2 separate regions of the Homo sapiens genome follow, and region 1 is linked to region 2. The links come from fine-mapping of genetic effects on gene expression. Tissue or cell type: nucleus accumbens. Region 2 holds a variant in brackets; the other region holds the start of a gene. All regions are shown on one strand. Distances are from middle to middle.

Region 1 (5,381 bases), 52 kb after region 2:
CTAATAAAATTTATCCATCAGGATCTCAACTTACAACAGAGCATGCATGCAAAATAGGAAAATTCCAGGAGATTTTTAGGAAGCTATATACAAAAGAACAGAGGCAGAGAAAACAAAAGGAATAAAACATGTGAGGGGAGAGTTGCTATAACCCAACAGGAGACAAAAAGTCAGACACAGTTATTCGCCTTTAAAAGAACAGTGACTTTTTGCTGAAGGAGCCAAGGAAATAAATACTCCAGCCTCACTCTCTTTTCTCCCTCTGGTCTCCAACCAAGCCTCAAGCCAGAGGACATCAGAGCCCACTTGATTTAGCTCTTGTAGATCAACCTCAAGGGAAGGTGGAAGGGTGCAGGATAGAGAAGATATCTAAAGGAGCAAAAGGAAGCTCACCACCACATAAAAATTGTTCCTAATTATTGAGTGTTTTCTGTGTAACAGACACAAATACCTTATATGTGTCGACTCATTTAAACCAAATAATCTTATAAGGCAAATATTATTATTTTCCCATTTTAGAGATGAGGAACATGAGGCTGGCTGTGTGTAGTTAAGTAACTTCCTGAAAGTCTCAGAACTAAGGATGAAAGCAGGAATTGAATCAAGGTAATGTGTACTATAGCCTGTTATTGTCAAAGATCAGTAAGTGGTAGTAATTGGTTTCATAATTATCGTCACTACATAAAAGCTATTTAATCCCAACCAATTATATTTCCAGGGTTTTATCTCAATTATAATACTGCGAATGCATAATAAAGTATGTTCAATATGCTATTTGTAACACTGTATTGGCAAAATATACACAAAATTTAAATGCCTAGTGTTGGGGCTCAGAAACCAATACCACAAAATGTGACACTTTGACATGCTGAAATGAAGAAGGCTTAAGTTTTCTTTGACCTTCCTTCACCAATCCTCTCTTTCCCAAAGCACAGAATGAAGGTATTCTCTGAAGTTCCCTTATCTGCCTAAAGTCTCGACTTGCCAAAGAAGAAAACAGTTACCTCTGGTCTCTTCCCTGACTTTCCACAAACTGAACTCATATTGCAGAAAGAAAGACTGAAGTCTGTCAACACACACGGAGAGCTCTGCAGGCTTAACATACTTTGTCTCAGGCCACTGTATGTTCTTCAAACACATTGAATTCCCCTAAAAATCATTTTCTAACCCCCCAAATCACCCATACATCACCCATCTGCCTTTCCTCTAATAAGGAGGTACAACCCTCTGTACCTCATTGGGATATTGGCCAATCACTCTGTGATTCTCCCCCATGCCCGCTGATAAATTTGTATGCCATTTGTCCTGTTAATCTGCCTTTTGTGACTTGATTTTTCAGTGAAACTTCAGAGGGTAGAGGGGAAGTTTTCCCTTGGCCCCTACACTATGAACTGAGATAGACAAAATAAATTAGTATGTTTATAAAGTGGAATACCATATGGTCAGTAAAAACCGGTAGCTCTATGAGTACTGTGTGTTGATACACAGACACACACACACACACACACACACACACACACACACACACACACACGGGGGGGGATTCGAAAAGGTTATATGTTACATTTTCTGTTAAAAATTTAAAATAACTACATTACCTATATTCTTGTTGACAAAATTTGAGTGCCTGGAAAAATACATAAGAAACTGGTAACGTAATTGCCTTTGGGGAAAGCAACTGGGTGGCAGGGTGAAATGGAGATAATTTTTTATTGCACACATTTTGTACTTTTAATTTTTTTACCATGGTCATGTAATAACCTATTAAAAACATAATTTAATTAAGGAAAAAAATCTAATTTTGCATTATTATTGACCTTCCAGGGATTCATGTAATTTGAGAAATTGAATGAAAACAATTTTACATGCATGAAATTCAGCTTTCTTACTCTATACATCCTGAGTGATTTGCCTTTTTCAGTAACAGAATCCTTTGCTATACCAGCTTGTTAAATGAATGCCAAATCAAGAGTAAAATTTCCATCTGTATTCCATAGTGTTTTAGCCATGCTGCAAAAGCAAAACCTGTAGGTAAAACAAAGAAAATTATCACCTTGAAGCTAGGTAACAGGTAACCCAGAAGTCCGGCCAAGCATAAAATTACAGCCACAAACAGCCCTGCAGAGAACATCTCAGGACGGCGGCTGCTGGGTTTTTGTTGTTGTTTTCATCTTTCTTGGCCAAAGGAAGCAGGTGTTAAGAGAGCTCAACCACAGCTCCTGAACTCTGAGATTTACAGAGCTCTGTCACCTGGGGTAATACTGCCATTCTTCCAGGTTTTCTTCCTGTCCAAGAAATCTGACATGCTGTTTTTCATGGTATTTTCAAACTGGAAGATCGAGACAGAAACTTTGGTCGTCAGGAATGCAGAGATTGCCCAATGAAATGACAGAATTGATCATTAGGATGCTTGTTACTCAAAAAGCCCATTTTTTAAAGAAGGATGTATTAAAATTATTCCAGCATGCTAATGTGGCACACTCCTCTGCTGCCTAACGGCAGGTGTTGCTATTAGCAGAGGAAGCCTTGTTCTAAGAATTATTCTAGAGGGCCAGAAAGAACAGGTATTGCTCCACCCGAGTAAACGCTGACTCAACTCTGCAGGGCTGGCGCGCTCTTTCCTCACCTCACCCCTCCTGCCAGGCACAACTGAGATCCAGAAATAAGAGGATTAGCGAGAGAAGGGGAAATATGCAGGACGGTAGTGATGGGTATGCACAAAGGAGTGCCAAGCAGTTTTAACCGTTAATGTTCTTCGTCTATTGCTAGAGAAAATGTCTTTCCTTGGAGGAGGCATTGGCACGAGTTACTATAAACTCCCTCTGAATCTCAAGACTTCTGGGACGCCGATTCCGCTCCTGGCCTGGGGCAAGGCGTGGGAGCTTGGAAGCCAGCGCTGCGCTCCCCGTGGGAAGCGATCGTCTCCTCTGTCAACTCGCGCCTGGGCACTTAGCCCCTCCCGTTTCAGGGCGCCGCCTCCCCGGATGGCAAACACTATAAAGTGGCGGCGAATAAGGTTCCTCCTGCTGCTCTCGGTTTAGTCCAAGATCAGCGATATCACGCGTCCCCCGGAGCATCGCGTGCAGGAGCCATGGCGCGGGAGCTATACCACGAAGAGTTCGCCCGGGCGGGCAAGCAGGCGGGGCTGCAGGTCTGGAGGATTGAGAAGCTGGAGCTGGTGCCCGTGCCCCAGAGCGCTCACGGCGACTTCTACGTCGGGGATGCCTACCTGGTGCTGCACACGGCCAAGACGAGCCGAGGCTTCACCTACCACCTGCACTTCTGGCTCGGTAAGGGACGGCGGGCGGCGGGACCCCGACGCACCAAGGCCGGCGAGGGGAGGGCGTAGGGGTCTGAGATTTGCAGGCGTGGGAGTAAAGGGGACCGCAAACTGAGCTAGCCACTCGCGCCCCCACGGGGCTGCCCTTTGGGGCCGGCCACTTTCTCCCTACCGAAGTCAACTCGCCGGCTGCAAACGCGGGGCTCAGGCGTTGTCCGCAATTGACTTACCTCGCAGGCTTTGACCTTTGCCAGGTGTAGTTCCTGGACTTTGGAGCTGGTGACTGGCTTCTTCCCCTTTCACCGTCAAGTATCCAAACGCCACTCTTGTCCAGGGCCGCTGCCTCAGCGCACACCGTCTCTGGCCAAGCCCCGCTCACCTTCCGACAAACTCAGTCCTGCTTTCCCTGTCGGGATGGAGAGGAAGTCATAAAGTCTGGGGGCATCTGCCGCCGCTAGGAAGAAGTCCTTTTCTTTTTCTTCACACATTATTTTTATTTGTTGCTTTCGGGCACTGGCTTATTTTCTCTATGATTGCGGGAATTATTGTTCTGGGCTTCTTTAAAACAGGATTCTACCCGCACCATGCTGCTTGTGGGTCTGGTAGACAAAAACTCCGCTTCATTCGGAAGCTGGCGTCCTCAGATAGAAGTAAGAAAAAAATACAGATATTTTATATACAAATAAATAGCTCTATATGGGTATTTCATATATTTATGTAGACTGCTTTATTGTTATTATTTATTATTTATTTTAGCAAGGACACAAGATGGAACAGAAACGGCTCCTTCAGCAGTAGTAATTATTTTGAGCTGCGTTCGTGCCAGGCTGTCAGGACACTGGGCCTTGTGTGTTCTTTTTCCACCTTCTACTTTTACTCATAAACATCCTGAATGTCCAGCCTCTCCCCAGGAGGTCTTGTGCCAGTGGGCACACCCTGTCTAACAACATGCCGATTCTCTGAGCCTTTTTGCCTTCTTTTAAAACTAGCTAGCCTGCCCAGTACTCGTGTTTGTTTAGTTTTATCCCTGAGCTTAGGAGGAAAACACACAAAACCACACACACTTACACATTTTTGAGTCCCTGAAAGCCAACACTGTAATTTCCAACATTTGAAGATTTTAAGAAACAAAATAATAGAAAACATTGAGTAGTGACTGTCTAAACATTGGCAAACACCTGGAACAGGCATTTGAGAAATGAGAAATGAAAAATACGTAGATGAAGATAAGACTTTTAATTATAACATTTGGAGTCAAAAATTTGTGTTAGCTTGAGGAGGCAGAGAAGGCTCAGCCTGAGTTCTGAACACATTTTGGCTTCTTGATGCATTGCTGTTATTCCTATTATAATGTTGTAATACACAGTCATCTATTTGTATTTTCTGCCAGAAAAGACTGAAACTTTTATAACCCATGTTCAAGAATGAATGATGCCAGATAGAATAATGATGTCCTTACAGAGGACTTTCCATGCAGAACTTAAATCTAGCATGAATGAAAGTGTTTGAAATGCCACATTTGCCATTTGAGTAAATTAAAATGTGAAATAATGCCATATCTTACTGTAGACAGCAGTTAAGTTTGACTTTGTCAGATGACCGCAAGGGAGATTTGAACACAATTCTTTAATTCTATACATTTTTATCCAAGTTGTCCTCTTAACTACTATATTTTGTAGGGTTTACAGATTCACCTTATTCACTTAATTATCTACTTAATTATCCACTTGATGCCCATAAATTTCAAAAATATAATAGAAAATGGTTTGGGCAGAAACATTTATAATCTTAAAGACATGCTAAAACTGAAGTCAATAACATGTTAATAACAAGCAAATTCATTCAGTAATTATTCAATATGGCCAGTACTGTACAAGGCACTTGTGGATATGAATAATTAATGAAACTTCTCTAAAAGTTCATCACCTCAAAGGTGCAAAAAGACAAAAAGTGATATAACACAGGTAGAATGTGATAATTACTGTGAAAGCACAAAGTTTCTGTGGTTATTGGGAAACAGAAGCCTTTAGAGAAAAAAAAAATGAGAGTACTTGGAAGTGTTCTTGTGTCAAGAGAGAATTATGGAGAGAAAAAAAGCTTC
Region 2 (5,381 bases):
AATAAGGTCCAGACTGAGGTGGTCTCAGATGGAGATGAGGAACTTGTTGGGAACTGGAGCAAAGGTGACTCTTGTTTTGTTTTAGCAAAGAGACGGGTGGCATTTTGCTCCTGCCCTAGAGATTTGTGGAATTTTGAACTTTAGAGAGAAGATTTAGGGTATCTGGCAGAAGAAATTTCTAAGCAGCCAAGCATTTAAGATGTGACTTCGATGCTGTTAAAGGCATTCAGTTTTATAAGGGAAGCAGAGCATAAAAGTTCAGAAAATTTGCAGCCTGACAATGTGATAGAAAAGAAAAACCCATTTTCTGAGGAGAAATTCAACCTGGCTGCAGAAATTTACATAAGTAACAAGGAGCCAAATGTTAATTCCCAAGAGAATGGGGAAAATGTCTCTAGGGTATGTCAGATGTCTTCACAGCAGACCCTCCCATCACAGGCCCAGAGACCTAAGAGAAAATGGTTTTGTGGGCCAGGCCCAGGGTCTCTGTACTACGTGCAGCCTAGGGACTTGGTGCCCTATGTCCCAGATGCTCCAGCCCTGGCTGTAAGGGGCCAATGTAGAGCTTGGGCAATGGCTTCAGAGGGTGCAAGCCCCAAGCCTTGGCAGCTTTCATATGGTGTTGAACCTGCGAGTGCACAGAAGTCAAGAACTGGGGTTTGGGAACCTCCACCTAGATTTCAGAAGATGTGTGAAAATGCATGAATGCCCAAGCAGAAGTTTGCTGCAGGAGCGGGGCACTCATGGAGAACCTCTGCTAGGACAGTGCAGAAGGGTAATGTGCTGTGGGAGGCCCCACACAGAGTCCCCACTGGGGCATGGCCTACTAGAGCTATGAGAAGAGTGATACCATCCTCCAGATCCCAGAATGGTAGATCCACTGACAGCTTGCACCATGTGCCTGGAAAAGCCACAGACACTCAATGCCAGCCCGTGAAAGCAGCTGGGAGGAAAGCTGTACCCTGCAAAGCCACAGGGGAGGAGCTGCCTAACACCATGGGAACCCACCTCTTGCATCAGCATGACCTGGATGTGAGACCTGGAGTCAAAGGAGATCATTTTGGGGCTTTAAAATTTGACTGCCCAGATGGATTTCAGACTTGCATGGGCCCTGTAACCCCTTTGTTTTGGCCACTTTCTCCCATTTGGAACTGCTGTATTTACCAAATACCTGTACCCCCATTGTATCAAGGAAGTAACTAGCTTGCTTTTGATTTTACAGGCTCATAGGCGGAAGGGAGTTGCCTTGTCTCAGATGAGACTTTGGACTGTAGACTTTTGGGTTTAATGCTGAAATGAGTTAAGACTTTGGGAGATTGTTGGGAAGGCATGATTGGTTTTGAAATGTGAGGACATGAGATTTGGAGGGGCCAGGGGTGGAATGACATAGTTTAACTGTGTCCCCACCCAAATCTCATCTTGAATTGTACTCCCATAATTCCCATGTGTTATGGGAGGGACTCGGTGGAAGATAATTTGAATCATGGGTGCAGTTTCCCCGATACTGTTTTTGTGGTAGTGAATAAGTCTCACAAGATCTGGTGGTTTTATCAGGGGTGTCCGCTTTTGCATCTTTCTCATTTTCTCTTGCCACCGCCATGTAAGAAGTGCCTTTCACCTCCCACCATGATTCTGAGGCCTCCCCAGCCATGAGGAACTGTAAGTCCAATTAAACCTCTTTTTCTTCTCAGTCTCAAGTATGTTTTTATCGGCAGCATGAAAACAGATTAATATGATGTCTAAATCTCTTGCTAGACTTTGGAACTTTTCAGCTATTATTCTGCTAAATAGGTTTTTGAACACTTTTGTCCTCTCCTCACCTTCTGAGATAACAAAAATTCATATATCATTTGCTTTATAGTGTCCCATATGTTATGAATGCTTCATTCATTCTTTTTTATTCTTTGTTTTTTCATTTTTGTCTGACTGGGTTATTTCAAAAGACCTGTCTTCAAGTTCTGAGATTCTTTCTTCTGCTTAATCTATTGTTGGAGCTTTCAAATATATTTTGTAGTTCATTAAATGAACTCTTCAGTTCTAGAATTTCCATTTGCTCTTTTTTATCATATTTTTCTCTTTGGTAAATTTCTCATTCATATCCTGAATTATTTTTTCTGATTTCTTTGTATTGTTTTTCAGCATTCTCCTGTATCTTGCTGAGCTCCTTTAAAATCAGTATTTTGAATTCTTTTTCTGGGATTTTGTGAAATTTTTTTGATTGGGATCTGTTGCTGGAGAATTATTTTATTCCTTTGGGGGTGTCATATTTCTTGCTCTTTCATGTTTTCTGTGTCCCTACATATCTATGCATCTATGTCTTCTTTGAATTTTTTGAATTTTCTTTTGAGTTTAGGGCTTTTTCCTAAAAATTTATCTATGATGTTTGTTGGGGCCATTTGGCTTTGATTCTGAATGTGTGCAGTAGTGTAGTCTCTATATGATTTCTTTGCCTACAAACAATGTTAGTGGTATCTGTGATTTCCTCAGTGGCTTAGGGTCATTAGTGGAGGCTATGGTGGAGATTTTCTGGGAAAAGGGATTGCAGGTAGGTCAGTCTTCAGGCCCAAGTGGTTGCAGCAGTAGGCTGAGTATACCTGTCCTTTAGCCCCCTGGGTGGTGTATGCTGGCACTGGTGTTAGTTGTCCAGTTGAGCCAATTATCAGGCCTCCAC[A/G]TGTCTTGCCCAGATGCTGGTAATGGCAGTGGTGAGCCAGGTGGGTGTACTGGTTTTCAGCCCCATGTGCAGACAGCATGGTGTGGGCCATGGCAGTAGCAGTGGTAAGATGACTGTCTTATTCCTGAGCAGTGCTCACTGGTGTTGGCAGTGGCTGTGATTGGCTGAGCAGACCCCTCCCCGAGCTCCTAGATGGCACATGTGAGTGTGTGTTTGTGCTGTTGGCAGCAAGGTGAGTGGGCCCATCTTCAGGTTCCTAGGGGGATAAAATAGATGGTATAGGTGGTGGAATAGATAGAATAATCACCAAGTCCTTGGGTGGTGTGCTCAGGCTTGGAGGTGTGGTGCCAATTTGGGAGTGTCTGTCCTCAGGCGCCTGATGGTGTGCAGGGGGATAGGCTGTAGTAGGCAGGTTGAGACAGTCTGTGATGGTTGGTGTGGATACCTGACCTTAGGGCTTGTACTAGAAAGCATAGTGGCCCTGCTGTTTGTATGGGTAGGTTGCTATCAGCAGTCTCCTACAAGCAGCTCTCAGGCTCTGGGAAGTGAATATTTAATCTCTGGCAGCAGCAGTGACTGCAGTGGTGAGTGTGAGGAGCCTGATTTGAGGATGTGCACTAGAGTACAGAACCCGTGCTGCTGGTATGGGCTGGATTGGCACAGGGAGTCTCCAGTTCTAGGTTGCACTTGTTTCAGCTCCCTGCTGCAGTAGTGGCTTCAGCACTGTGCAGAAGATGGAGATGAGGATCCCACCCTCTATTGGTAGCCAGAGCACATGACCATACTGCAGGGGGACAGGGTCACCACCCACAACCCAAACATGTAGCTCTCAGACTTATTTGCTCTTGGAGGCAGCAGCTGCAACAGCACCATGCAGAAGTGAGAAAGAACCCCACCCTCTGTGAGTGAGCTTTAACACAGGCCACACTGCTAATGGGGACATGGTTGCAACTCACAGCCCCAGACAAGCAGCCCTCTCTTGCCCATCCAGCCCCTAGTGGCAGCAAGAGCAGCTGCAGCTGCAGTGAAATGCAGAGAAGGAAAGAGATCCCATTCTCTATACATAAATCCTAGCACAGAGTCCACTCTGCCAGCAGGGTTGTGGTCACTCCTTCCAGCTCCAGTCAGACAGCTCTCAGACCCGCTTGCCTTGGCTCCCAGTGGCAACAACTGCTATGGCACTGTGCACATGTAGAGGGAAAGATCCCACTCTCTCACTGTGAACCCAAGTACAATATGTGACACAGTTAGAGGTGGAGTCACTTATCAAAGCCCCAGAAAGAAAGCTCATCAGCTCTGGAAAGCATGTAATTTGGCTTCCTTTGTGCCCAGTGGCCACCTCCTTGGTGTGCTGCACCATTTTTTTTCCCCAGGGAGTAGTACTCTGTTGGACTAAAGTACTGGGGACCCCAAGCATCTTTGGGCTCAGCCAATGCTGTGCCTCCGTAGCCCTCTGGGTGGACACCAGGGGATATAAACAGAGGTTCCCAGGATGTGGAGATGGGACAGCTGTTGTTCCCAGAGCAGGATGCAGAATGGTGATGGCTAGGCTCTCACAGTGGTGCCATGCTGTAGCCACTTAGATCTCAGGAGTGTGTGTGACCCAGTGCATTTTCTATCTGGTACAATGCCCTCATTGGGTCTCCAGATGAACACCCACACTAGTCTTAGGGTTAATGTGGGTACAGGAGCTCTCCAATGGTTGGGATTGCAGCAGTCCACAGTGAGGATGTAAGCCAATGAGGGTATCCCACTTACCCTTTCTCTGCAAAAAGGAGCCCCTATGGGCTCACAGCCAATCTTGGCCAAGCTAACCCCTTGCTTTCTTCCCCTTCTGTGTCTCAGATATTTCTCTTTTGGACTCCGGTGTTCTCTACTAGATGTTTTATCTGAAATGTGATTATCTATTTGGTTAAGTTTTGTTTCTTCTGTCTGGAGAAGGCAAGTGCCCGATGCCTCTAGTCAGCATCTTGAAGCTGTCTCTACATTCAAGATATTTCTAATTTATTGATGCGGATATTTATTGCTGTAAACTTCCTTCTTAGAACTGCTTTTGCTGTATCCCATAGGTTTTGGTGTGTTGTATTTCCATTTTCATTTGTTTCAATAAATTTTTAAATTTTTTCTTTGCCTCATTTGTTATTCAAGAGCGTGTTGCTTAATTTCCATGTATTTGTATAGTTTCCAAAGTTCTTTCTGTTATTGATTTCTAGTTTTATTCCACTGTAGTCAGAAAAGATACTTTCTATGTTTTTAATCCTTTTTAATTTGTTTAGACTTGCTTTGTGGCCTAACTTATGATCTATCCTGGAGACGGTTACATTTGCGAATGAGAAGAACATACATTGTTAGTTACTGGGTGGAATGTTCTGTAAACGTCTGTTAGGTTTATTTGCTCTAGAATGCAGTTTAACTTTGATACTTCTTCATGGATTTTGTCTAGAAGTTCTGTTTATTTCTAAAAGTGGAGTTTTGAGGTCCCTTACTATTATTGTATTGCTGTCTATCTCTCCCTTTAGATCAAATAATATTTGTTTTATATATTTGGGTGCTGGATGCACATATATTTGCTATTGTTATATCTTCTTCCTTAATATACTTCTTAATCATTATGTAATGGCCTTCTTTGTCTCTTTTTACATTTTTTTATTTGAAGTCTATTTTATCTGAAATAAGTATAGTTACTTCTGTTTAGCTTTGGTTTCCATTT

Alleles and levels. Positions count from the first base shown, and alleles are read on the strand shown. Sizes are in standard deviations (SD) of each study's normalised expression.
For the expression in nucleus accumbens of the gene that starts at base 3,025 in region 1, allele A in region 2 goes with a lower level than allele G (small effect, 0.27 SD a copy in GTEx).

The links. PIP is the estimated chance that this variant, and not a neighbour inherited with it, causes the effect. A credible set is the group of variants that fine-mapping cannot tell apart.
Region 1: it holds the start of SCIN, and the variant in region 2 is the best candidate, but not a certain one, in a credible set for the expression of SCIN in nucleus accumbens (GTEx, PIP 0.74).

Annotation. Positions count from the first base shown.
Region 1 is chr7:12,567,696-12,573,076 of GRCh38, forward strand. It overlaps SCIN (scinderin), which reads left to right and starts at 3,025. Exons shown (of 16, transcript NM_001112706.3): 1 at 3,025-3,290. The coding sequence starts at 3,092. LOC107986768 reads right to left here. Exons shown (of 3, transcript XR_007060635.1): 3 at 1-3,686.
Region 2 is chr7:12,515,679-12,521,059 of GRCh38, forward strand. The region is part of intron 1 of C7orf78 (chromosome 7 open reading frame 78); the gene reads left to right. Among named protein-coding and RNA genes, the nearest start is that of C7orf78, 14 kb to the left of the region's middle. RefSeq lists an enhancer at 3,523-3,622. The variant A/G (reference allele first, on the strand shown) is at 2,672.